4 linked regions of the Homo sapiens genome follow. The protein of the gene in region 2 interacts with the protein of the main gene of each other region in a biochemical or structural test. Each region holds a gene or a part of one and is shown on either strand. Other genes may lie near its edges.

What was found.
Region 1: the proteins of PIAS2 (region 2) and MITF form a complex in vitro, tested with the Homo sapiens proteins (one study listed by BioGRID).
Region 3: the proteins of PIAS2 (region 2) and GTF2IRD1 form a complex in vitro, tested with the Homo sapiens proteins (one study listed by BioGRID).
Region 4: the proteins of PIAS2 (region 2) and FLI1 form a complex in vitro, tested with the Homo sapiens proteins (one study listed by BioGRID).

What each region holds. Positions count from the first base shown.
Region 1 is NC_000003.12:69,931,451-69,938,477, reverse strand, and holds part of MITF (microphthalmia-associated transcription factor), read right to left. Parts: intron 1,887-7,027; exon of another isoform or gene 1,756-1,886; coding exon of another isoform or gene 1,723-1,755; intron 657-1,722; coding exon 429-656; intron 127-428; coding exon of another isoform or gene 112-126; exon of another isoform or gene 1-111. UniProt on the Homo sapiens protein: Transcription factor that acts as a master regulator of melanocyte survival and differentiation as well as melanosome biogenesis.
Region 2 is NC_000018.10:46,907,506-46,914,532, forward strand, and holds part of PIAS2 (E3 SUMO-protein ligase PIAS2), read right to left. Parts: intron 1-7,027. UniProt on the Homo sapiens protein: Functions as an E3-type small ubiquitin-like modifier (SUMO) ligase, stabilizing the interaction between UBE2I and the substrate, and as a SUMO-tethering factor.
Region 3 is NC_000007.14:74,456,888-74,463,914, reverse strand, and holds part of GTF2IRD1 (general transcription factor II-I repeat domain-containing protein 1), read right to left. Parts: intron 1-7,027. UniProt on the Homo sapiens protein: May be a transcription regulator involved in cell-cycle progression and skeletal muscle differentiation. May repress GTF2I transcriptional functions, by preventing its nuclear residency, or by inhibiting its transcriptional activation.
Region 4 is NC_000011.10:128,753,045-128,760,071, forward strand, and holds part of FLI1 (Friend leukemia integration 1 transcription factor), read left to right. Parts: intron 1-5,070; coding exon 5,071-5,282; intron 5,283-7,027. UniProt on the Homo sapiens protein: Sequence-specific transcriptional activator. Recognizes the DNA sequence 5'-C[CA]GGAAGT-3'.

The sequences.
Region 1 (7,027 bases), on a different chromosome or scaffold from region 2:
AAAATAATATTCCAGACATTCACAACAAGCGGAACTTCTAAACAGCATGTCCCACACCTCTTCTATTTTTGCTTTTCCTTTTCCACCTCCCCTTCTCCTCTCTCTGCATTCTCACTGCTTCATAAACTGAAAGGCATGGAAGAGAAGAGAGCACTCAGCTAAGGAAGAAGAAGCAAGTGGCAAAAGTGTCCTCGCCTCCACATTTCACTTGGAGAGGGCCAGGTCTCCCGTCATGTGCTCTACACCCAATAACCCAGCGATGGAGACAACAGGCTGGAATGCCACAGCCACGATGGTGAATCGGGGACAAAGGCTGGTAAATGTGGCCACAAGGACAAACTAGAGTCCACAGTTAAGTGTGGGAATCATATTCAACAGACAAGTTATTTAGCATAAGAAAACAGGAGAGGAGAGGAGACATGAATTACCTCTTTTTCACAGTTGGAGTTAAGCGTAAGCATAGCCATGGGGCTGTTGGGTGCGCTGCTCCCCGGCACCGGTGGCATGACATGATCGCCAGGCTGGTTTGGACATGGCAAGCTCAGGACTTGGTTGGCATGTTTATTTGCTAAAGTGGTAGAAAGGTACTGCTTTACCTGCTGCCGTTGGGCTTGCTGTATGTGGTACTTGGTGGGGTTTTCGAGGTGGGTCTGCACCTGAACATAGCCATGGAGGGAAAAGAAAACAGCGCTGTTATTTGTGAGTTTCAGACGGCTCTTCCTTCAGGCACAAACATGAAACTGACCAGGCCACCAACAGAATAAATTATTAAGCCTTTGTTATGTACCAGGCACTGTGCTAACGGATTTTGATATTACTGAAGTTTAAAGTCTAACTAGTAGGATTTGGTGTAATACTTTGCCCTATTTTATTTCCCTGCTAATTAACTATACGTCTCTTTCAAACCTTGTATCCTTCTTCTCATATCTAATAATTAAAAGTTTGAAATTATCTTAGGGCAAAAATTTCCCCAACACACATGAAAGGGTTTATTAAGATCAAACAACAATGTAGAAGTGGCATAATTGTTTGTTTCACTTTCCTTGGCGAACAGAACAGCTTTCTTTTTAAAACACACACACACACACACACACACACACACACACACACACCTCCTTAAGAACCAACTGTGTAAAATGGCTGTAGAAAATAAATATAAATCTTCCAATGATTAAATCAACTAGTTGTGGATTAATTCTCCCACTTTTCATTTGGACATGATTATTCAACATTGTAATTAAGAAAAAACTCAACATAAAAAGCAATTCTACATTAAGTAGTTTCTTTCAAATGCATAACACTTACACGTATGTGTTTTAAAAGACATGACTATTAACAAGCCAACAGGATGTTTTTTCTCCTTTCCTACAGACATTAATTCAGAACGAGAAATACTTTTCCCCAAAAAACAACATTATTCAATTTTAAGTCACTTTTTTCTTGATAAAGACAATTTAATCTTATGAGCAATGAACAGGAGCTGATGAAGATAGTTTAGCCACACACTAGGCCAAAAAAAAAAAAAAAAAAGAATCCTACTAATATTTACTTTGTTCAAAACTACATTGAATTACTTCTTATGGCATCAAATAATAAACAGCATTAAAAGAGCAGATTTATACTTATTGAAAACAGTATGTCTATTACAATAACAAAAAGTGGATTAAATCAATTTATTGCATTATATTTCAAAGACTGAATATGAGTCAGAATAAATCTCACCTGATAGTGATTATATTCTAGCATTTCCAGCATAACAATGTTTTAGGTGGCACCAATCCAGTGAGAGACGGTAGACTATCCCTCCCTCTACTTTCTATAATTCCAATTTGAAGATGGACTGGCAAAGAGAAGGTACTATAAACAAGGTATCCCGAGACACCACCGGAAACTTTATCACAGAAGCCCTGCTTATAATAACCTAAGCTAATTAGTTATGCATGTAAAAAAAAACGTTCACATAAGGGCCTTTTTTTTGGAAGCCCTACGAGTTTGGTCTTAAATGTTGATATCAATTTTTCCCCCTGGCTTGACGTCATGCTTTTTTTCATAAATATAAAAGAACCTTTTTAAGTGACGAGCTATCAAAGTCAAACTCACTGTCAGATCAAGGCCAATTCACTATTCATCTTTAGTTCCAGTAGTATTAATAGACAATGGTATTTCTCTTTCAGCAATAGGTTAATAGCAGAATGCCCCTTTGGAGGAGACATCATCTAAAAGCTACTATTACATGAGACTTTTCCAATGGCCGAATAACTGCCACTTCCGACTGCAGGATGACTATCTTTTAGTATAGAAGAGAAGAGACTCTGTGCTGAATGTTCAAGTTCAACAGCCTCTTCTTGCATCCTGGTCTTAATATGCACCTTATTCTTAGCTACATAGATGTGTAACCTGCCTATTGACCTCACATCAGGAAGACCGGGCACTATCCTAAATAGAACATAGCACACACAGAAGTGGATATATATTTATGTGGATAATAAGAAATAAATATCTCCCCTATTTAATTCTCAAATGAAAAAAGCATGAGCATTTTTGCTGAGAATTTTTACATATTATTCTTAAGATTACAGAAGAATGAGTTATCATATACAACACTGATATATTTACATATTTATTCCTTTATTCATTCATTATTGACTGTTAAGTGCTAAACACTGTACAAAGCATAGAATATACATTGTGAACAAACAGATATAGTTTCCAGCTTTATGAAACTTATATTCTGGGGTGAGGCAAAAAAAGAAAAGAGGCAAGCAAATATATACTTATAAATTATGATAAATGCTTAATATCTACTGCTGACAAATGTTATGTTAAGCTAAAAATTTGAAGTTCAATAATGTTGTCTAAATGCCCAGGATAATGCAGTCCGTTAGGTTGACAATCTCATATTGTTTCAAATGACTGATTTAATATGTACACAGAGGTTCACAGAGATTTTTTTTTTATAAAGGGTCCAGACATGATAATGATGACAGTAGACATTACTAAAATAAACATAAAATGAGGGCAATGAGTAGAATGTGCTTATTTCACTATTACACTTAAAAAGAAAAGAGATTCATGTTTAAAAATAAATGTTAATTCACTGGCAGATCCTAATTCTTTAATGAATCAGAATATTATGCTTTAGTAAAGAAAGAAGCAATTTGCTTTCTATGTGGCACTGTCAGTGAGGTCTTTATTACATCCAGGTTTGGGTAAGCAGAATGGGATATATTTGGCTCTTTTACTGTTAATAACTTTTTATTTTTCACGTAAGTTGAAAGCAGATGGCCTATAAACACTATGCAGTAGACAGAACATCTCCAGCTGTTTCTAACCCAAATACCTCAAACAGGCAACATAAATGAGGAACATGAGCTACGAGGAAGGTAATAAGGAGTAGTGAGGTCTGTGGCAAACCAGAGGACACACATCTATCTAGCAGGAACAGCAGATAAAAACTGCAGCTGATTGTGGCCATGTGGGAATATGAGTCCAGCCTAGCTCAAAATCTCCAAATTTTTCAAGGGTAGCTGGCAATCCAAACTTCTTTTTTAAGTAAAATCCTCCAGGTTTAAAGATCCGATGCTCAACTGTTTTGTGTTTCACAGAGTACAAGCCTCGGCCCACAAACTACTAGAAAATAATCTCTATTTTACACTGTCTATAAGGATAATCTTCATATTTACATTCCCTTGGAGATAGCCTAGGTTATGGGAAGAAGTTTCTCTTCTGAGAAATTAGTCCAAATCCAGGCATTTCCTGGTGCTTCTTTGAAAGACAATGTGCCTGACAACACAGACAGTGGAGTTCTTAACTTGAAACCTGGGTTCAGATTCTATCTTTGCAACTTAACAACCCGTGTACCTTCTGCAATTCATTAACTTCTCCAGGCCCTCATCTCCTAGCATATTGAATGGGAATGACAGTAGAGCTTGCCTCATATGTGTGTTTTCTGCATTAAATGAGATCATGTTTCTAACGGCCTTAGCACAATATCTAAAACAGCAATTCTCAAACATTTTTGTCTTAGGATCCTTTTACACTCTTTAAATTTATTGTGTTTACATGGATTATATCTATCAATATTTAGCATATTAGAAATTAAAATTGAGAATTTTTGAAAACACACGATTATACATTAGTAGATATCTCACAGGATGTCAGAACAATGACATCTCAACACGACATGTAGCCTTCGGAAAACTCTATTGTTTACTGGTGAAATGAGAGTGAAAAAGGAAAACAATATCTTAGTGTTATTCTGAAATAGTCCAGATCTGGCAGAACTCCTGCAAGGGTCTTAGATACAACCAGGGCCCTCTGATCACACTTTGAGAACCCCTGATCTAGAATGTGGTTGGCATTCTAGCATCATCACTGCACCAGCAATGTCACTCCCCACTGTGGACAGGTGGTGTGTGACATAGCCTCTCTATGTTTACTTCCCTCCCTGAGAAGATGCTGGAGAAAGATACTAACCCTGTCCAAACTCCCTCATAGCATTATTATGAGGCTCTATAGCCCTTTGACAACTTAAAAAGCCATATAAATATAATTTTCTGTCTTCAGCCACCCTAATTCATAGCTTTTTAGTCAATAACTTTGCTTTCATTAATTTTTAAATAGCCAAAGAAGTATGCAAATGAGAACATATATGTAGCATTAAAGAGGACAGAAACATCTTTATGATTTCCTGATAATGTTTGCATGTTTTTGACTTTCCAGATGACTAACCACACTAAGAAATTCAGATAGCAAAAGTTGAGTACTGCTGAACACCTGAAGTATAGACAGCAAAATAAAGCTAGAATACTTTATCATAAAATATTATTTATTGATATAACTTATATTTCATATAAATTATGCTAGCTATCTGAGTTAAAGGGCAAACACCCAAAGGCTTTGTAACTTTTATTCATTGTTAGCACTCCTGTAATTTCACCTGTTTCCTTTCTTCATTCAGATCTTGAATGGATAGCAAGAGAATCGGAATGGATCACCTCCTAACTGTCACACTTCAGCTTTACCACTTCCTGGGTAAAACTGACAGGTTATTTTCCATCAGTTTCATTCTAAAGAGATCCTGGAGCACATCACATGTCAGTTTAAGATGGTAGCTATAGATACTACCATCTTGGCTGACAACAGAATTTACTGGGGAAGAAATATCCCTATCTAGATATCCACTATTCTTCTATTCTCTCTACTATTTGTAAACCAGAATTCAAGTAGAAGCGAGTGTAGATTTTCTTAATCCTTTTAGTTTATTTATTTATTTATTATATTTTTAGAGATAAGGGTCTTGCTATGTTGCCCAGGCTGGAGTGCAGTGGCTATTCACAAGTGCAATCATGGCACACTACAGCCTTGAACTCCTGGGCTCAAGTGATCTTCCCACTTCAGCCTCCTGAGTAGCTATGACATGCTTCTACACTCAAATGGCTTTATATATATATATTTTTAATAATTCAACAAAATGTTCAGATTTATCACTTATGTTTAGAGAGATAATTTGTTCTTTTGCTCAGCAAGTTTAAAGAAAACTAAAGGGATTACCCTTTAATCAATTGTTATCTATCACCACACCACTATTCTTTTCATACTGTTTTAAAAATGGCAATCCATAGAGAATGTCAGTTATGCAATCATATTTCCTGAAAAAAGCGGTAAAACAGAGAAAGCTAGCTTTCTTAAATAACTAGGATAGTCTTGCAAAAGGTCACATCTGATTAAGTGTCGAGGTTCTTTTCAGTCCCACAATTACATTACCACAAAAGAAAACAAAAGCCCAGAACATATATCCTTGGACATATAATCTTGTTTACTGTACAATCTGTACAAAGCTGTCCTTAACAAAAAGTAAAAACAACAAGGGTATGAATCCTGGCCTAAGGGAGAAGAATCAAAATCAGATGCAAATACAAAGCAAACCAAAGAGTCTTAAATAAAGAAAGGTTCGAAATGGCTATGGTTGACAAACCCAGTGCTTTTTCTCTACAACAGGAGTCTGTCCACCCATCAGCCCAACTCGGTCTGCTGCCTGTATGGTCTATAAAGTAAGAATGGATTTTACATTTTTAAATAGTTGAAAAAAAATGAAAAGAAGAATATTTCATGACACATGAAAATTATATAAAATTCAGATTTCAATGTGGATAAATAAAGTTTTATCAGAACACAGCCACACCCATTAGTTGACATGTTGTCCAGGGCGGCTCCCTTGCTGCAATAGCAGATTTGAAGAGTAGCAACAGAGTCTGCAGGGCCCCCAAGGCCTAAAATTATCTACATTGTGGCTTTTTATAGAAAATGCTGACCCCTGCTCTCTAGGAAAGTTTCACCAAACTAGAATTGAACTTTCCTACTCAACAGAAGTTTTAGCAGGATTTGAAGGAAAGAATGGGGTGATTTTAATAAAGAGAAATAGTATATGTATACGTAATTTTACAGTTGTTTTTCCAACTACTGTCTTAACTGGACAAGCATCTTTGTAAGAATACAGGATATGCTTAATTACCCCCCACCCTTTTTAAAGCTAAAGAAAACAGAAACTAAGAGGAAACCTAAACAACTTGCCAGGGTTAGAAACCATAGCCATGTCTCCATTATTCTGTCCGCAGAGGCGAACTAGAGAAGCTCCCTCTTCTGTGGGTCAGTTCTGATCTAGGACTTTAACTGAATAAGAAGGGAAGATAAAACTGTGTAAATCCAGGGGTGTATTCCAGGTGCATATTCCAGGTGCATATCCCAGGTGTGCACAAATAAATATATATACATTTATATCACATATTTATGGGTCTGTATACTTTCATACTACTTCCTGTCTTATTACATTGTAGGCTTCTGAATTCAGAGAATTGAGCTGTAAATATGTATAAAAGAAAAGGATAACAAATGTACTTTTCTGAAAATTTGATGTTAAAACAGAATAGACTAGACTAGCCCTATCAAAAATTCCCAGCAAGTCTTTTATCCTTAGCTAATGACCTATAAAACAGTATGCTTATTATAAACCACAAGACAGGCATAC
Region 2 (7,027 bases):
AGAAAAAAAGGCAGAAACAACAGAATACATATACAGAAACAGAATACAGTTGACCTTTGAATAACAATAACATATAGTTGAATATTGAATAACAATAACATATCCAATAACAAAAACCTGTGTTAGTCAAAGGTCAACTGTATCTTGTCAACTGGTTTGAACTGTGCAGGTCCACTTATACGCATATTTTTTTTTCAACCAAATGCAGATCAAAAATATGGTATTTGCAGGACGTGAAACCCACATATACAGAGGGCCAACTTTTCCTATACATGGGTTCTGCAGGGCCAACTTCAGGACTTGAGTACACATGATTTTCCTGTTGGGAGGGTGGATCCTAGAACCAATCCCCCAGGTACACCAAGGGGCAACTGTATATATACTACACAGGTTCCATTTATATAAAGTTCAAAAACAGGCAATACTAATCTGTTAAAGTTAGGATAGTAGGTCGCTTTTGGAAGAATGAGGTGAGGTTAGCCACTGGGGAGGGGAATATTTAGAGTGCTGGTAATGTTCTCTTTCTTGACCTGCACGATTATTATTTTGAGAAAATTCATCCAGCTATAATTTCATTATCTGTGTACTTCCTATGTGTATGCTATATATCAAAAGAAGTTTGGTTTTTTATTATAAAAAATATTATCTTACACAGAGATGGGGTCTCACCATGTTGCCCAGGCTGGTCTTGAACTCCTGGCTCAAGTGATGCTCCCACCATGGCCTCCCAAAGTGATGGGATTACAGCCTTGAGCCACCTCACCAGGCAAGAAGTTTGTTTATGCTAGCAGCAGCATCATCTTGTTTTAGTTACTGTAACTTTTTAACAATTTCTGTAAAAACAGACTAACGGCCCAGAGTCCAGAACCAAAGCACAGATGAGTGATGGCATCCAAACCAGTGAAGAAAAAAATTTGCATGAAAGGTGATGGAACAATTTATTATTCTTTGAGGAAAAACCATGCATCTTGGTCACCACTTCACACTGTATACAAAATCAACTCCAGGTGGATTAAAACCTTAAATGAGAAAAGGTAAAAAAAAAACAAAAACAAAAAACAAAAAAACTACGTCTTATACTTTTACAATAATGGAAAATATCTTCGAGAACTCTGTTGAAAAATTTCTTCAACAAGATTCAAAAGCACTATCCATAAAGAAAAGCCTGATAAATGCAATCACATAAAAATTAAGAACTTCTACTCATCAAAAAACGCATAAGGCTGGATGCAGTTGCTCATGCCTATAATCCCAGCACTTTGGGAGACCAAGGTGGGCAGATCACCTGAGGTCAGGAGTTCGAGACCAGCTTGACCAACATGGTGAAACCCCGTCTCTATTAAAAATACAAATATTAGCCAGGCATGGTGGCGGGTACCTGTAATCCCAGCTACTCAGAAGTCTGAGACAGGAGAATCTCTTGAACCTTGGGGGTGGAGGGTGCAGTAAACTGAGATCACGCCACTGCACTCCAGCCAGGGCTACAGAGTGAGACTCCATCTCAAAAAATAAAAATAAAAATGATTTAAAAGTGAGCCCAATTGAAAGGAGAAATTTGCACCACATGCATCCAACTGTGAAACTATTAAAAATCAGTATGAAATAATTTTTTTAAAAAACTAGTACAAACATGGGCAAAAGACATGAATAGGAATGTGAGAAAAGGGAAGAATGGCTAATCAGTATAGTAAAAGATGCTCAAACTCATTAGCAAAGCAAATGAAAACTAAAAGGTGGTATTTTATACTCGTGGGTAAAAACTTTTTTTTTTGAAACAGGGTCTCACTCTGTTGCCCAAGCTGGCGTGCAATGGCATGATCACAGCTCACTTCCTAGCTTCAGGTGATCCTCCCATCTCAGCCTGCCAAGTAGCTGGGACTACAGGTGTGGGCCACTATGCCCAGCTAATTTTGTTTTGTTTTGGTAGAGATGGGGTTTCACCATTTTACCCAGGCTGGTCTCAAACTCCTGGTCTCAAGCCATCCACCCACCATGGCCTCCCAAAGTGCTAGGATTACAGGCGTGAGCTACCATGCCCAACCGATAAAACCTTTTGAAGTGTGACAAAAGTAGATGTTAGCAAGAAAGCTGAGTAATGAAAACTTCTGCATTGCTGGAGAGAACGAAGACTGACACCACCTTTTTTGGAAGATAATCTGACATTATCCAATATTGGTGAATATGCACACATTCTTCTTAAATACCAGCAATTCTATTCCTAGAATCTCTACAGTGAAACATACAAATATTCACACTAAGTGAGATCAACAAAGATTACAATATCAGTGCAGGTCAGGGTTTTTCTGCAAGACAAGTTTGGTGAAACTTTACAGTTTTTTTCTCTTCATTTTCAAACATTTGGATTTAAGAAATATGGATGGCCAGACACAGTAGCTCACACCTGTGATCCCAGCACTTTGGGAGGCCAAGGCGGGTGGATCACCTGAAGTCAGGAGTTCAAGACCAGCCTGGCCAACATGGTGAAAACTAATAATACAAAAAAATTAGCCGGGCATGGTGCACACCTGTAATCCCGGCTACTCGGGAGGCTGAGGCAGTAAAATTGCTTGAACCTGGGAGGAGGAGGTTGCGGTGAGTCAAGATCGCGCCACTGCACTCCAGCCTGGGCAAGAAGAGCAAAACTCCGTCTCAAAAAATAAATAAATAAATAAATAAATTTTACATATGTATATATGTTAAAAGTATAAAGACAGACCAGGAATGATGAATCCAAAATTCAGTACAATGGCTACTGTCATTGGTGAAGGTGGACATGGTTGCAGTGGATGTGATCAGGAAAGTGCATCCTGCTAAAGTTACACTAATGAATTAGTAAACTGGTTGGTAATTATATGTATGTTTGTTTACATACGCCTTACCTGTTATAATCTTTTGTACTTATCAAATAACTTAAATATTTAAAATACAAAAATTAGTATGGAATACCTAAATACAAACCCACTGTTAGAGTCACCAATTCAGGGAAGTGTCTCAAGAACTCTAGAGAAATTAGCATCAGAGAAATTCAAGGTATTTCCCCATAAATCAAGGACAGGTTGCTATTTAAAAAGAAAGAAAAATGAAAGATGATAGAAGAACTCTTATAAATTAAAGATAACTACTGAAATAAATTTTATAGAAAAGTTCAAAGACAAAATCAAAGAAACCTTTCAGAATGTAAACAAATCCCGTAGATCGTAGACTACAATTGTAGATTACAATCTTCTACAGGAGAATAACCATCAGATCTGCAATGGACCTCTGATTAGCACACCAAGTATTTTAGATTCCCACAGCAAAGTTTTCAAAATTCTGAGGAATTTATAATTCCACATGTAAACTTTCAATCAGGAACAAAGACAAGCCATTTTCAACATTCGAGAACTCAGAAAGTTTATCACCAGCATATCCTTCCAGAAACAACTATTGAAGGCTGTATTCCTGTAAAATAAAAAAGGTATCTAAAAGAGAAAAACATGGGATCCAAATAACAATAGATCTAACCCAGGAGAACAATGTGAAGTAATCCCAGGATGACAGCTGGGTAACAGGTCTACTAAGCTTCCCAAATTAGAAAAGGCAGGCCAAGACTCCGGAAAGTCTACCAAGACAAGCTGAATGGCTACAACATGAGAACCCATTATAATATTAAATTTTAAAAATAACTTCAATGAGCTTTCCTCATTCAACCAGGACTTTGTTATATTTCTTTTTTTTTTTTTTTTCCTGAGACGAAGCCTTGCTTTGTCACCCAGCCTGGAGTGCAATGACATGATCTTGGCTCACTGCAACCTCCACCTCCCGGGTTCAAGCAATTCTCCTGCCTCAGCCTCCCGAGTAGCTGGGATTACAGGTGCCCACCACCACGTCGGGCTAATTTTTGCATTTTTAGTAGAGACGGGGTTTCACCATGTTAGCCAGGCTGGTCTCTAACTCCTGACCTGAGGCGATCCGCCTGCCTGGGCCTCTCAAAGTGCTGGGCTTACAGACGTGAGCCACTGTGCCCGGCTGACTTTGTTATATTTCCTTTTTAAGGATCACAGGTTTAACAGAAGTGAAGTTTCTCTATGGCTCCACAGTACTTGGTTCTATAGTAACTAATACTCATGTCAACATACATATTTAAAAGAGTGGCTATTAGTACTCAATTTCTAGATTTTCCTGCAGAAGCACAGAAAACTTTAGAAGAGTTATAAAACATTATATAAATGCAATAAATCTTGCCAATGTAACAGTACTAACCAAAAACAAAGGCTGGGGCCGGGCTCAGCGGCTCATGCCTGTAATCCCACCACTTTGGGAGGCCAAGGGAGGGGGAGTGGATCACCGGAGGTCAGGAGTTCAAGACCAGCCTGACCAACATGGTGAAACCCTGTCTCTATTACAAATACAAAAATTAGCCAGGCATGGTTGCAGGTGCCTGTAATCCCAGCTAATCGCGAGGCTGAGGCAGGAGAATCGCTTGAACCCAGGAGGCGGAGGTTGCAGTGAGCCAAGATGGCGCCATTGCTCTCCAGCCTGGGCAACAAGAGCAAAATCCTGTCTCAAAAAAAAAAGGAAAAAAGAAAACAAAGGCTAGGAAGGGAGGAGGGAAAAACAAAGGCAAGGTTTGGCTTTTAAATCCCAAAAGGAAAGGGATCGGTGTTATATCTTTTTCTGAAAGACCAGGAAGTGAGGAAATATAGTTGTCTCTCAGTATCCGTAGGGGGCTGGTACCAGGGTCCCCTGCAGATACCAAAATCCAAGAATGCTCAAGTCTCTTACATGAAATGGCATAGTATTTGCATATAAGCTATACACATCCTCCTACGTACTTTACATCATTTCTAGTTTACAATACCTAATATATGGCAAATGCTATGAAATGGTTGTTATACTATACTGTTTAGGAAATACTGACAAGGAAAAAAGTCTGTACATGTTCAGTACAGATGTAACCAACCTTTTTTCCTGAATATTTTTGATCCAAGGTTGGTTGAAACCAAAGATAAGTCATTCACAGACATGAAGGGCCAAATATACTGTCTAAAAGTGATAGGTCAATAAACAGAAATTTATAATAAAAAGTTAAAAATAACAGCAAAATTAGGAACCAAAATGTAACTGATAGAAATCAAAGTCTAGGACAGGTGGAAAATGACCTAAATTTCTTATCTAGCAAAAAGTTAAGAAATATTTTTTTTGAGTTGAAAAAATATAGAGAGAAAGGCATGGTATATTTTTAGACTTTTGGAACAACAATAAAACCCTAAAAACAAACAAACAAAAATGGTTAAAAGCATAATGGGAGTGGGATTTAATGGAAAAGGGAAGACTTTCACTATTTTGAATTTTTTCAGTACTGTCTGCACAAATATTGCTTTCATTTAAAAAATATGAGAAATGGAAATGAGAGAATAAAAAATGTGACATCAGGTGATCCACCCGCCCCAGGCTCCCAAAATGCTGAGATTACAGCCTTGAGCCACTGCGCCCAGCCTATTTCACTTTAAGTTAAATATATTTTGTTTCGAACGTGCTTTCATAGACATGAGCTCAGGTGAAGCCTTGGAAATTTTAGTTGCATCCCATAATAGCTTTGAATCATATGGAAGATTCTGTTATATCTATCATAGCTATTAGTCTGTATCCCTGCCCAATAAATGGGGAGAGGAGCGTGATGAGGACCTCTAACCTCAAATCCCCCATTAACTTCCCATTCTCCTGCTGCATCCTAACAGCACTTGAAGTTATCAGGATGGTGACTCCTGGTAGGTGTAAGGAAACCAAACACTTAAGCCTTCTAGACAGAAGACCTTCTGTTACAGAATTACTTAGGCTTCTTAGCATGAAAGACCCAAATCTGATCTTCGAATTATGACACAACAAATTTACCCAGTTTGGTAAATGTTCTGGTTTACCCAGTATCTATTGATAAAGTTATCATCGCTGGCTCTCTCAGGCCAAATGCACAACCAGATTCTCACAGGCACATTCTCTCTCATTCTGAGACACACACAGAATAAATTCTCAATGCATGAAAAGAAGGGGATGAAGAATACAGAAGGGAGATCCTTAAAAAAAAAAAAAAAGTCACTACAATAGATCCCCCTCCTCCCCATTGAGTGATGAGAAGTAGGGAAAGTAGATTAACCAGGTTAAAGTGTAGCAGGGACCTTTTTGTGAATGACTGCCACCAGCAGACCACAATATTGGAAATATGCAACTGGAAGGGTAAAGAAAAAGCTGCTCTGGTTAAAGAAGAGGTAAGTGATTCCAGAAACTCAACTCCTGCTCTCCTCCATCCCTGTGCTTAGCTCTTCTACAGACTAGTTTGAGACAGGGTCTCCCTCTGTCGCTCAGGCTGGAGTGCAGTGTCAAGATCAGAGCTAGCTGTAACCCAGAAATCCTGGCTTCAAGCGATCCTCTTGCCTCTCAAAGCGCTGGAATTACAGGTGTGAGCTACCAAGCCCTGCCCTCCAGACCATTTTTGGAGGAGGAAGCAAGGCAGCAGTGACAGAAGTTCAGGCCATCAAATCTTATGATCTTGTCCCACATTAATTCACAACTAGTTAATTCAAAATCTGTTCATTCACAAACTAATCACTCCTTCAGCTCCTAACAACACAGATGCCATAAATAAGCAACTGGTAAATTGAGTAATTTCTTCTCTGGCACCTTGAAAGCTTCTAATATATAACACATTATTGTAACCATCTTTGAGCACACAGGCCACATTTTCCCTTTTCAGAGAACTTCCCCACTTCCTTTCCTTCAATCCATCAGGATAATCTGCTGATCAGGTTTGTGTGCTTTGACTCTAAGCCCCCGGCTATGGATGATTAGAACAGAAGTAGAGACCTAAACTCAGCCAATCAGATTCTCTCTCCCAGAAGAACTGGAAGAGAGGTGGGCTGGTATTCTGGTCACCCGGACTGAAAGGCAACAAGGTATAGAGCTGCCATATTCTGCTATGACCAGCCAAGATCTCTGGTACTGGCTCACGCAGCAGTCTCCAAAACTGAAATAGTCAGGCGACCCCCTTAAC
Region 3 (7,027 bases), on a different chromosome or scaffold from region 2:
CCGCCTCTACTAAAAATACAAAAATTAGTCGGGTGTGGTGGCACGCACCTGTGATCCCAGCTACTCGAGAAGCTGAGGCAGGAGAATCAACTGAACCCGGGAGGCGGAGGTTGTAGTGAGCCGTGATCACGCCACTGCACTCCAGCCTGGGCGACAGAGTGAGACTCTGTCTCAAAAAAAAAAAAACAAAAAACAACAGTGGTCCTACTCTGGCCCAAAGGGGCACAGGAGGCTTGAGCCTCACATGTCCCCACCACCCGCTCCTTGGTGGCCCCTGGGGCCCTCCAGGGCTCTGTGGTAATCCACACACTCACATTACCCTCAGCTGAGTCTCACAGCCCTGCAAACCTAGTGTTCTGTTCTCCCACTTAAAGATGAACAGGCAGGACGCAGTGGCTCACCCCTCTAATCCCAGCACTTGGGAAGCTGAGGTTGTGGGATCACTTGAACACAGGAGTTCAAGACCAGCCTGGGCGACATGGCGAGACCCCCATCTCTACAAAATAAAAAAATTAGCTGGGTGTAGTGGCAAGTGCCTCCAAGCCCAGCTACTTAGGAGGCTGAAGTGGGAGAATCACTTGAGCCTAGGAGTTCAAGACTGCAGCAAGCTATGATTGCACCACTGCACTCCAGCCTGGGTGACAGAACGAGACCCTGTCTCAAAATAATAATAAGAACAGATGAACAAACCAAAGCCCAGAGATGTGACATCACTCGGCCAGCCCTGTTCCGTTTGATCCTAACTCCTGCTCCTGCCTGCAACAGTGGCTTCACCACCTTCCTTCCCTACCCTCAGAAGTCCTGCTCTTATTTCAGGCAAACATGAAACTTCTACCCCAAGCAAAACAGCTGCAGGAGTGAAGACCAGAGACGCACCACCAGGAACCCCAGACTCCCACAGGGTGGGGATACATAAGATGATGGGCAAGACACCCCAGGGCACAGACAGCTCCCCTCCCTGGCACCGCCCTCAACCTCCAGCTGTCCTGGCCCCATAGCCTCAATTACTCCAGAGCCCACCTGGATGGCGGCGGGAGGATCGCATGGGGCCAGAGGCCCGGAGGGCAGCGGCAGGCAGGTGTAATTTCATCGCGGGGCTCACAGTATGAGTCACCAGAAACAGAAGATGAAATTCCAGCTCTGAGGGCGGAGATGAGCAGCTCCCCCGGCTTGGGGTCAGCTCTTGATGTGGGGGGTGGGTAGTGATGGGGTGCAGGCCACAGGCCCCCCGCCAGCCAGATGGTGCCTTTGTGAAAATGAGAAAGAGGAACCACCTTCTTCTGGGGGGTCCCGAGCTGATGCAGGGCCGGCCAAGCCGGTTTGCTAGATTTCCCTAGAGAGGAGAGTGGCTAGAGGTATGTGGCATATCCACACCATGGAACACTACTCAGGGACCAGAAGGGACCAGCTACCCGTGTACCCAGCAATGCCGTAAATGCATTATGCTGTGTGAAGCCAGATTCAGAGGCTGTGGACTGTAGGATTCCATTTATGTGACATTGTACAAATGGAAAACCATATACAGAAGACAGATCAGTGGTTGCTGGGGTCAGGACAAGAGACAAGGATGAACAAACGGGCTTCAAAAACTTTTAGGGGTTACAGGATTGTTCTAACTCCTGGGGTCAAGCAATCCTCCTGCCTTAGCCTCCCAAGTAGCTGGGGCTACAGGCACACATCACCACACCCGGCTAATTTTTTTTTTAAGAGACGGGGTCTTGCTATGTTGCCCAGGCTGGTCTCAAATTCTTGGCCTCAAGTGATCCTCCCGCCGCAGCCTCCTGAGTAGCTGGGGCTACAGGCATGAGCCACCTCGCCTGGCTAATTTTTGTACTTCTTGTAGAGATGGAGGTTTCACTATGTTGTCTAGGCTAGTCTCAAACTCCTGGCCTCAAGCCATCCTCCCGCCTCAGCCTCCCAAAGCGCTGTTCTATGTCTTGACGGGGGTTGGACGACATAAGGGTGTGAGCCAGGCAAGTTCCTGGTATAGCATAGCCTTCACTCCTCAACGATATTTTTAATAAAATATAAAGTGGGGCCGGACACAGTGGCTCACGCCTGTAATCCCAGCACTCCGGGAAGTCAAGGTGGACAGATCACTTGAGATCAGGAGTTCAAAACCAGCCTGGCTAAGATGGCAAAACCCCATCTCTACTAAAAATACAAAAATTGGCTGGGCGAGGTGGCATGCACCCATAATCCCAGCTACTCAGGAGGCTGAGGCAAGAGAATTGCTTGAACCCGGGAGGCAGAGGTTGCAGCGAGCCGAGATCGCGCCACTGCACTCCAGCCTGGGTGACAGAGTGAGACTCCATCTTAAATAAATAAATAAAATAAAATATAAAGTGGGCCCTTCTCATGTGCCAGCCGGGGGCTGGGGACCAGGACCTAATGAGACTCCCTCAGGCCTGACGCCTCTGCAAGGTCCTCACTGGCTGGCGTAACAACAGATGGATAGACGAAAAGATACGGACTTGCTTTGATGGTGGTTCTGCCAGTAGCCAGAAAATGCACCTTGAGACCCTGCTAGACCCCAGCCAGCAAAGAGGCCTACCCTCGGCCAACCATCTAAGACACAAACAGCCTGGAGGGTCTCCCCTCTGTCACAGGGAACAGGAGGGGAAAGGGCTAAGCTGCCCCCTGCTTACCTACCCTCCCCAACCATGCAGCCTCTTCTGCATCCTCAAGTGCCCAGGACCGCAAGCCCTCAAGCCAGGCCCTCCCACCCTGTCTCCACCACAGACCTGCCCCCGGGGGTCCCACACACCCATGCTGTGGCATCCCCACGGGGTCACACCAAGTCCCTTGGACTACAGCACCACACTGGGACCCAGGCAGGTTGGGGAGAGCCATCTCCCTTTTACATCCAAGAAAACTGCCCAGGCGGGCGGAAGGTGGACGTGGACCCCATGACCCCGGCCCCTTACTTTCCCCCCATTTCCCCCACTCCAGAGGCTGCAGCTCAGGTGCTGGGAACCTGCCTCAGGTGGCAGCATGGCAAAGGTGCAGGAATTCCCAGCAGCCTCCGTGCTGTGGGGTCAGCCCCTCAAGTCCACAACCGCCCCCGTGGCGGGGTCTCCCAGCTTTGAAAGGTAGCCATTGCAGACACTTTCCCAGCACTCAGGCCTTGCCAATCCTACATGAAAATCTTACTTGGTGTATAATAGGGTGTTTCCAGCAATTTCCCACCCCCTCCTCCCAGCATCTCTAAATATACGGACCACATTGGCCAGAAATCCCTGAAGACAAGGACTTCCCAAACTGGGGATCCCTGGGCACCCCTCAGGCCACCTAGACTACACCCTCCATGCCACCCAGGCCAGTAGGAGATCTAGACCCTCGAGCCACAGGCTGGAGGAGGCCCGACCAAGGACATTAGAAGGATACTGCCTGTAATCCCAGCACTTTGGGAAGCTGAGGTGGGAGGATCGCTTGAGGCCAGGAGCTTGAGACCAGCCTGGGCAACATCGCAAGACCCCATCTCTAAAAAAAAAAAATTTTTTTTTAATTAGCTAGGTGCAGAGGCTGAGGTGGGAGGATCACATTGAGCCCAGGAGTTGGAGGTTGCAGTGAGGTAGGATCACGCCACTGCACTCCAGCCTGGGAAACAGAGTGAGACACTGTCTCAAAAAATAGAATAAAATAAAAATGAAAAAGGACCCTGCTGGCTGGGTACAGTGGCTCACTTCTGTAATTCCAGCACTTTGAGATCACTTGAACTCAGGAACTGGGCAACATGGCGAAACCCCATCTCCACCAAAAATACAAAAAATTAGCCGGGCACGGTGGCGTGTGCCTGTGGTCCCACCTACTTGGGAGACTGAGCCAGAAGGATCGCTTGAGCCGGGGAGGGAGAAGCTGCAGTGAGCCGAGATTGTGCCACTGCACTCCAGCCTGGGTGACAGAGTGAGACCTCATTTCAATACAAATTAAAAAAAAAAAAGCCAAGATTCAGTGAATCAGCTCCACTCGATTCAAACTCGCTCCAGATCATCCCCGGGGCCTCCACTGAGCCCTGATCCCAACTCCAGGGTCAGCCACACACACCTCTGGCCCCTCCCCAAACCCCATCCATCTCACCGCCCCAGAGGCAGCAGTTGTAGGGTTGGCAGATAAAATGCAAGACCTCCAGTTCAGTCTGAACTACAGATCAACAACAGGTAACTTTTAGCTAGAAGTTCATCCCAAATATTGCATTAGTCCTTGCTTGTCTGAAATCCAATTTTAGCTGGGCATCCTTATTTTTATTTGCTAAATCTGGCAACCTGAAGCAGGTGGTCCTGAAAGAGGGTGACAGGTGGGCACACAAATAGCTCTGGGTCAGCCAGGCCCCAGCTCAGGGGCGAGAGAGTTCTGTTCACCGCCTGAGACACTCCCTAAGACCGTGTAAGATAAAGTACATCCTCACCCATTTCACCTATCTTATTCAGGACACCTATCTTATCTTTTTTTTTTTGAGACAGAGTTTCACTCTTGTCGCCCAGGCTGGAGTGCAATGGTACGATCTCAGCTCACGGCAACCTTCACCTCTTAGGTTCAAGCAATTCTCTTGCCTCAGCCTCCCGAGCAGTTGGGATTACAGGCGCCCGCCACTACGCCTGGCTAATTTTTGTATTTTTAGTAGAGATGGGGTTTCACCGTGTTGGCCAGGCTAGTCAAACTCCTGACCTCAGGTGATCCGCCCGCCTCGGTCTCCCGAAGTGCAAAGTGCTGGGGATTACAGGCATGAGCCACCGCACCCGGCCCTAACTTATCTTAAATGGGCAAATTTCCAGGGCATGAACCCAGGTTCCTACAGACCTGGCCCCTTTCTGCACGACCCTCCATACTCATGAAGCCACAAACCTAGGTGCAGATTGGCCCAGAGAGAAGGGAATGGGACCGAGAATGGATCAGTTCCACAGGACGAGTGGAGAGAGAGCTACCAAAATAGGGTGGGTGAAGAAGTGATGATGAGGCCGGGCCTGGGGGCTCACACCTGTAATCCCAGCACTTTGGGAGGCCAAGGAGGGCCAATCACTTGAGGTCAGGGGTTCATTCAAGACCAGCCTGGCGAACATGGTGAAACCCCGTCTCTACTAAAAATACAAAAATTAGCCAGGTGTGGTGGTGTACATCTGTAATCCCAGCTACTCGGGAGGCTGAGGCACGAGAATCACTTGAACCCGGGAGGTGGAAGTTGCAGTGAGTTGGGATCGTGCCACTGCACTCCAGCGTGGGCAACAAAGCAAGACTCCATCTCAAAAAAAAAAAAAAGAAAGGGGGGTGATGGACCAGGGGGCTTTCCTGAAAAGCTTTCTGCCTCCAAAACCCACATTACCACACCCCCTACAGGCCAAAGCCCCTCTGCCACACCTGGAGATACCTGACTGAGAACTTCCAAAGTAGGCCAAGAAAGTGACAGGGTCCTGCCTCCCTTCCGGAGTATGGAGCCTGGGTAGAAAGCACATGTTTCTATGAGATGGGGCTGAGGGGATTCCGAGAGGCCAGGCCCCTCCTGCCGTATCTGGAGCCCCCAACATCTACACCTTGGAGACTGTTACCCCCTCACCAGCAATCATCTGTCACAACACACTGTCTTCTGGCCAGGTTCACGCATCTCCTTCTCCCCCAGAAACCATCCTTCCCACCACTCCACCTCTGCTATGAATTCCTTCAGGAAATTCCCTTCCAGTCACACTAAGGGTCCCTGTCCTAGCGGCCCCATATTATCCCGGAAGCCCCCCAATCAAAACTGAACTCAGGACCGGGCGCAGTGTCTCATGCCTGCAATCCCAGCACTTTGGGAGGCAGAGGCGGGCAGATCACTTGAGGTCAGGAGTTCTAGACCAGACTGGCCAACATGATGAAACCCCATCTCTACTAAAAATACAAAAATTAGCCGGGCGTGGTAGAGCATGCCTGTAATCCCGGCTACTTGAGGCAGGAGAATCGCTTGAACCCAGGAGGCAGAGGTTGCAGTGAGCCGAGATGGCGCCACTGCATGCCAGCCTGGGCGACAAAGTGAGACTCCCTCTCAAAAAAAAAAAAAAAAAAACAAAAACGTAACTCAGCATGGATTCCAAGCCCTGGGTCCTGCTCTGCTCCTCTGTTTATAAATTGGCCCTGCAGGTCTTCTTCCATGGGTGTCCCCTGAAGCCTCTGCAGGCCCCATGGAGCTGGGCATACACCCCTGGCTTGTCCCAAAGAACCTGGCTGTGACCCTGGCTGCCACGCATCTGAGAGAGAGATACTTACAAACGGCGAGAGTCAGAGAACTGAGAGATACAGAGAGGATGACATTGGGGAGCAAAGCCCCCAGGGTTAAGGTTGGGAGAAGACACAGGCTGGGGTAGTGGGGAGAGAGGGGGCCCCAGGAAGTTCAGGGAGAGACCCTGGGACTCCTACCAGGGTGGGGAACTTGCCCCAGAGATGAGCATTTAAGAAAAATAGGAGAGAGTCTGCTTAGCCATTTAGGTCAAGGCTCAAGAGCAGGATTTCATTCATTCATTCATTCAAACATGTAGCCATTTAACAAGTATTTGAGGAGCAAGCCTCCATCCCTTCCTGTCCCTAGTGCAATTGGGGAGAGAGATGTAAACATCTGAGTAAGATCAATGTTGGGACAAAGGAAGGAAAGGATGTTGGCTAGGCGCGGTGGTTCACTCCTGTCATCCCAGCACTTTGAGAGGCCAAGGTGGGAGGACTCCTCATGCCCAGGAGTTCGAAACCAGCCTGGGCAACATAGCAAGACCCCATCTCTACAAACAATAAAAAATTAACCAGGTGTAGTGGCCCTTGTCTGCGGTCCCAGCTACTTGTGAGGCTGGGGTGGGAGGGTGGCTTGAGTCCAGGAGTTCGAGGCTGCAGTGAGCTGTGATCACACTACTGCACCCCAGCCTGGGCACAGAGCAAGACTGTCTCAAAAAAAGAAAAAAAGAAAAAAAAGAGAGGACATCATGGGGATATAAAGGTGGAACCATGGCCAGCCCTGAGGACGAGGAAGTCTTCAGCCCAAAGATACCACAGCCAAGCCAAGTCCTGAAGG
Region 4 (7,027 bases), on a different chromosome or scaffold from region 2:
TAAAGGGGCATCATTGGGTACAAATGTGCTGGGGCACTTCCCTGCCTGGAACAAGGGACCCTATGCCACCCTCTGGATCTAGGACTCAGTGGCTCTGGACCCACAGACCCAGCCTTTCCAGCATTCTGCAAAGGAAAGTGCTTCTCAGAAGCCAATGACTAAGCCAGCCCAGGGGTTCCTTTTACAGAGACAATTGTTGGGTCAAGAAGGAACCCCAGAGCTGAGCCCCACATAGGGCTAGGAGCCCACGCCTCCTGTCTTTCTCACTTGGAAGTCAATTTTACATAGCATGGTCTAAAGCCTCATGGACCCCACAAGTCTTTTAAATAATAACTAACTTCTCTTCCCTTGAATAAAATAATCAGCAACAATAGGAGAAGCAAAGTCATGAGAAACGGAAGGAATGTAGTCCCTCTGAGGATGGCTGGTGAATTTGCATGCTGGTGTTCTTCCTACACCCAGCCTATCACCTCAGTTAAGTACTTATTGATGATTTATCCGTGGAAAGTTCTTGAACGCTAGCAACATGCTCATTTCTGTAAAGAGCTTGAAGTACAAGGAAGAGTTTTAAGTTTAAACTTTAAAAAGTTTTAAGAGTTTAAGTAAAGAGCTTTATAAGACACACATGAAGTAGCAACAGCTCCTCATGTGTAACAAGCTGCAAATAAGTGAAATTTCTGCCAGCTCAGCAGCTCCTCGCCTGCAGACAGCAGCAGCCACATCAAGTTGCCCAGACTCATTCCTCTTGTTTGCCTCCTCCGTCCCTACTCTGGTCTTCCCAGAGCAATTTGGAGAGGGCTCCCTACTACCAGTGGCATCATAAAAATGACAGTGTACTTGCCAAGGGCATGGTCTTGGGGTGCTCCTAAAGCTGTTGAACTGCAAAAAGGGGTGCCGTTTATTTGCAGAAGCCACAAGAATGCTCTCCTCCCCAACTCTGCTCTTTCACTTGGGTCTCAAATCAGCTTGTCTGGGGCCTTATCTCCCCAAATCTTTTATTCCACTTAGGGGCCCTCACCTCCCTTCCCTTGCCCATATTGGCTTTTCAAATTCAGCCCAGTGAGCCAGACAGGGAACTCTTCTCCTTCATCTTCTCTCTCTTCACAGCCCCCATGATCTATCTCTTCTTTTCTCTACATTGTAATGGAAAAAAAGCTTTTTGTCTAGCCATGATTGCAAATAGAAGGGGGATGTGTGTGTGTGTGTGTGTGTGTGTGTGTGTGTGTGTGTGTGCACATATGCATACCCAAAGCAGTATTCTCACGAGCTGTTAACAGCTCAAAGGAGTCATAGGTCATCATCAGAAAGGTTTCATGGAAACAGGAAGCTCTCAGGAAGATCTCACTTACCTTACACAATGGCAAAGATAATTGTGCATCAGGGTGAAAGAGTAAAGAAAGGTTACTTGCAGCAAAAGGAACCACAAAATTAAGGCACAGAAGCATACCTGAGTAGGGCTTGTCTAGTGGAGCAGTGAGAATAGTTAGAATTGGACACAAGTTGCAGCAAGAGGAAGTTGTGCAATGTAAGTGTGGCAGGTGGGACAAAGATGACCTTTGGAAGACAAGTGGCTGAGAAGAGATTTGCTGTGGTCCATCTCTAGGGAGCTCTCTGAGGTTTTTGAGCAGATTGTGGCAGGATGACAGCAGTATTCACAACTTGCAAGGGAGCTGGATCCAGCCAGGGAGCGCACAAGGTGTACTGAATGAGGGAAGAGCATGTCAGTGGGTCGTCAGGGAGGGAAGAGTCTCAGAGAGAAATGCCCAGACTGGACAGAAGTGTGAGGCATTCCCGGTGAACCGGGACGCTCTCCTCCTACAATGTTGCCACTTGATTGGAGTTTCCTTGATTGTGAACTACATTCTTAAGGAAACTTCTATTCCAAAATGAGTTCAAACTGGTTTTGTGCCCTTTCTACACCTACACTCTATCTCATCACTTGTTTTTTTCTAGCTGTGTACCACTCACTTCCTTAAGAAGTCTCTCCTGGGTCTGCCTCCAGAACCGCTGGCTTTGTGTTCTCTGTGTATTCTCTTTGCTGTGAGTCTTGATTTTGCCGTCTGCATGTCCCCTTGGCCAGGACAATCCTGTGTTCCCTGTTGCCTGGTCCACCCTCCTTAGGATAATGATGGGAGGAACTTTTTGCCCATCTATGGAGCATCACTGTGCCCAGCCCTGCCTCCCGGGCTTCTTTGCCTCTGATATTCTGTCATCTTCTCCCCCAACCTAGAAGAGGGAAGGGAAAGAAATTATTTTACTGGAAACTCCAAGGTTCATGAATGATAAACTAAGAACGTAAGCCATTCTCTACAGCAGAAGATGCTACCTGATTCCTGAAATGTCATCTGTTTTTGTAGCAGGACTGTGGTACATGTTCTTCACTCTTATCACCAAAAGACACTTAGGGGTCATAGGTGGTAATGTGTCCTCTGCTTCCAGTGCGGAGCTCAAGGAATTTCATGGAGTCAGGGACAGCTGTCTGAAAGGTTGCAATGTCACCCTTTTCAGCTCAGAACCATAATTCCTTGAGCCCAGATAACAGTTCAAAATTTAGGATATGAAGCCAAAGCTGAACTCTAGCTGAAATCAAGAGTGGATATAATAACCAAGAAACAAATGGTTCTGACAAGCACAGCTTTACTCTGAGCATGACTCAAGGGCATCTGGTAGAAAATGAAGAAGGATCCCAGCAGATGTTAGGGCTAGGGAGATCCCCTCGGTTGGGGGATGTAAGTGTTTTAATATTGTGTGGGCAACTCTGCTTTGAATGTATGTCTGGAGGCACCTACACCATCCAAAGCCTTCTGGTGCAAAAGCAGGACTCCTAGAGTATATTCCAGTATTTTTTCCCTGATCCCAGCTGAAAACAGCCATAGAAGAGCCTCCCTTTTTGAATTATGGCTGTCTGTCCGCTGGGGTGGAGAATGGCCCTGGGAGACAAGAGACAGCCCATGGAGCAGGTTGTAATTCTACAGGCATATGAAGAGCATTCATTCTGAAGAAGACATTCAATTCAGGAATGTGAATTACACAAGGAAGGTAGACAAATCCCAGCTTTAACAAGTGCTGTTCACCTATCACTACATTTTCAAGTAAAGGTGGTGTATCCATTTGCTAGGGTTTCCATAACAACATACCAGGGCTGAGTGGCTTAAGCAAAAGAAATTTATTTGCTCAGAGTTCTGGAGACTGGAAGTCCAAGATCAGGGTGCCAGCAGGGTTGGTTTTCCTCAGAGGCCTCTCTCCTTGGCTTGCCAATGACTGCTGTGTCCTCACATGGCAGCCCCTCTGTGCACACACTCCCCTGGGGGCTCTCTGTGTGTCCAAATTCCCTCTTCTTATAAGAACACCAGTCATATTGGATTAGAACCCACCCTATCAGCCTCATTTCACCTTACCTCCTTAAAGGTCCTATCTCCAAATACAATCACATTCTGAGTACTGCGGGTAAGGGCTTCAGCATATGAATTTTGTGAGGACACAAGGCAGCCCCTAACAGGTGGCCTAAGAGAATCTTTGTTTGAATGCTAATAATCATGATACCTAACATGTTCTGAGTGTGACTCACTATGTGCCAGAGACTTCTAAGTACTTTGCATGTATTATCACAACTATTATCACAATTATAGATTATATAATTATTGATTATATAGATTATAGATCAATTATAGATGACTACCATCTTCTCTGAAGACTTACTTTGGTGTAATTATGTGACTGTAGTGAACACTATGCCCTGGTCCCTGACCTTGGATGCCTGTGATTCGATGAGACATGGAATAATGGGAGACTCTTACCCTCATGTTTTGATTGGTAGCAGATCTCCGGAATGTGCAAAGTTTTTTAGTTGTCGTTGTTGTTGTTGTTTCGAGACTGTCGCCCAGGCTGAATGCAATGGCACGATCACGGCTCACTGCAGCCTCTACTTCCGGGGCTCAAGTGATCCTCCCACCTCAGCCTCCCAAGTAGCTGGGCACATGCCACCATATCTAGCTAATTTTTTCTTTCTTTCTTTCTTTCTTTCTTTCTTTCTTTCTTTCTTTCTTTCTTTCTTTCTTTCTTTCTTTCTCTCTTTCTGTTTTTGTAGAAACACAGTTTTGCCACATTGCCCAGGCTAGTTTAGAACTCCTGGACTCAATAGATTCTCCCACCTCAGGCTCCCAAAATGCTGGGATTACAGGCATGAGCCACCATGCCTGGCCAAGGCTTCTTTTCTTAATCCATGATCTCCCAAAGTCACACCCAAGTCAGTGATGGGATAATATGAGTGGGAGGACCCAACAACCTCTTTTGGAGGGTCTTGCCCTGACTGGCACTTCACGTGTCTGAGGTTCCTCTTTCGTCCTTTGGCTGGCTGAGTCATCAACATTGAGATCTACAGGATGCACCAGCACCTCCTAGAGGGCCCTCAGCAAACCACTGAGCATTTCTTACAAGCTACACCCCCACACCAGATCTTCTCATTTAATCCACCTATCGACTCTGTGCTAAAACTATTTTTATCCCTGTTACAAATAAGGAAACTGAAATTGGCCTGGCCACAGCCATGGGCACCACCCTTCCCTTGTGTGACCTTGAGCAGCACACCTAGCCTCTCTGGGTGGATCTCACTGGCCTTGCCTGGAAAATAAATGCTGGATCTCATCTCCCCTTCATTGCTGATGACTCCACTCAGCTCGTAAGAGGCATTTCTGCTTATGCCTGGAAAAATCTAGCATTCACACACCACCACAATACTATATTCCATGCCAAGTCACCACTATTCTTGGCCTCCCTATCCCCACCCTCCTTTTTGGGGGTCCCAGACTACAGAACCAATAAACAAACCCACTTTCATGATTCCTCCATCCCCACTCCACTGCCCAAAGTCCCTCCTCACCCAGGTAACCTGCAAACACCCATCTGGTTTGCATAAGGGCAAACCTGCCCCCTGGAGTGTGAGTCAAACAGGAACTTCCAGACAAGCTGTCCTGGGGCAGCCCTGGGCCACCTTGCCAGCTCAAAGCAAGAGTGTCACTTGCTTGGGTGAAGAGTGACACTGGGCTTTCTGTCTCTTCTCTGGCCCTGCAGGAGGCTCTGTCGGTGGTGAGCGACGACCAGTCCCTCTTTGACTCAGCGTACGGAGCGGCAGCCCATCTCCCCAAGGCCGACATGACTGCCTCGGGGAGTCCTGACTACGGGCAGCCCCACAAGATCAACCCCCTCCCACCACAGCAGGAGTGGATCAATCAGCCAGTGAGGGTCAACGTCAAGCGGGAGTATGACCACATGAATGGATCCAGGTAAGCTCACCAGGCCTGTGCAGGATTGGGGGAAGGCACAAAGTCGCCAGATCTGCAGCAAGTGGCTTCTGGCACTTAAGGTTTTTGCAGCAGATGGGGCTCTAGAGCTGGGCCAGGAAGCCTGTGTCAGTCCCTAGAGAGCTAAGGCAGAGAGGGCCACAGACTGATGATGGGGTGGAGTAGGGCTAGGAAGCCCCCCTGCCTCTCTGGGGCCCACGAAGCCCTCAGAGGCCAGGTAGGAGTCAGGCCCCAAGCGCCTATGCAGACACTCGTGGAACACTTATTTCTTGTTAATCCCAGGCCCAGGTCCAGTCCTGTTGGGGACAGCTTAGCAATAAGCTACTCTTCCCTGTCCTGTTGAAGATACTTAACCCCTCTGGGCAGGTCTCAGCAGAGCAAAGGTGACCAAACCATTCTTTAGTAAGAGTGGAGAAGGGATGAGGAAGGTGTCTACCTTCCTGTGGGGGCTCACTGTGTCTGGGAGGGGGCAGGCACCTGGAAGGCGTGCATGAAGTGGGTACAATACTGGGTCAGTTCGGGCTTTGCTTGTAGAAATGGAGACAGGAGGGTCCAGGGAGAGAAAATCACAGGGTCATGGAAGAGGACAGTGGACAGGCGGCCTCAGTTTTGCGTCCTGCCTCTGCCCCTTGGGCAAGTCATCGAAACCCCTCAGAGCACCAGCTTTCTCCCTTCTCAAACAGGACTGGGATATTCACTTCCTTATGGTCCTTACTCTAGCGTTACTCTGATGCCTCAGGGAAAGGACCTGGGATGGTGCCTGAGACGCGTTAGGAAAGTGCTCTATAGTGACAGTGATTGTTATGAGCAAAGACTTGAAAGACAGAGAACATCAGTCTTATTCACAAAATATCAGATAATCTACTGGGCCAAAGGCACAAAGAGATGAAAATAAAAAGCAACAGAGGGCCCTGAATGGCAGGCTGAAAACATGTGCCATTTATTCCACAGCCAGAGGCTGACTTTGAGCACCGATGTGACATTTAACCCAGAGGCTGACTTTGAGCACAGACGTGACATTTAACCTCATCAGAGCAGTGACTTAAGACTAGCGAGCTGACAGTCCTTGCGCACAGACGGTAGGATGGGAGAGTCAGAAAGACAAGTGAAGAAGTTAGTAAAATATCCCAGATAGGAAATAATGAAGTTCGGAACTAAGTGATGATAGTGATTTTGGAAAGTGAAAAGGACAGATACATAAGGGCGATAGCAAAGAGATGATTAACAGGGCTTAGGTGAGTAAAGTGTGAATGAAGGGGGTGCATGACAGGAAAGAATCAAAGGCGACTAAAGCCTGCACATTTTAAAGGCTGGTGCTGTGAGCAGCCGCAGAAAGGTGGCACAGGAAATGCTTTAGGATGGGATGTCAGTGTTCTCTTTGAGATTCCTTGTGAGCAATGGGTAGAACATCCAGATAAAAACGTCTACTAGGCTTTGGGAACTGAAGCTCAGATAATCTTTCAGGCCTGGAATTTACGTTTGGGCATCATCTCTAAGGAGTCTGAACTGTGAAAGTGGATGAGGTCACCGAGGAAACTAGTCTAGATTGAAGAGAGAGAAGGGAATGAGCATGGTTGGGAGGGAGAACTCCTCCAGAGCAGCTCATGGCCTCAGACCTGCCTGTGGGAACTGCCAGGCCTACCACATTTCAACCCTACTAACCAAAACCAGTGACTGGGATCTCAGCCACCTTTCCAGATCCCAGGATTTCAGGAAGGCTCAGAGGT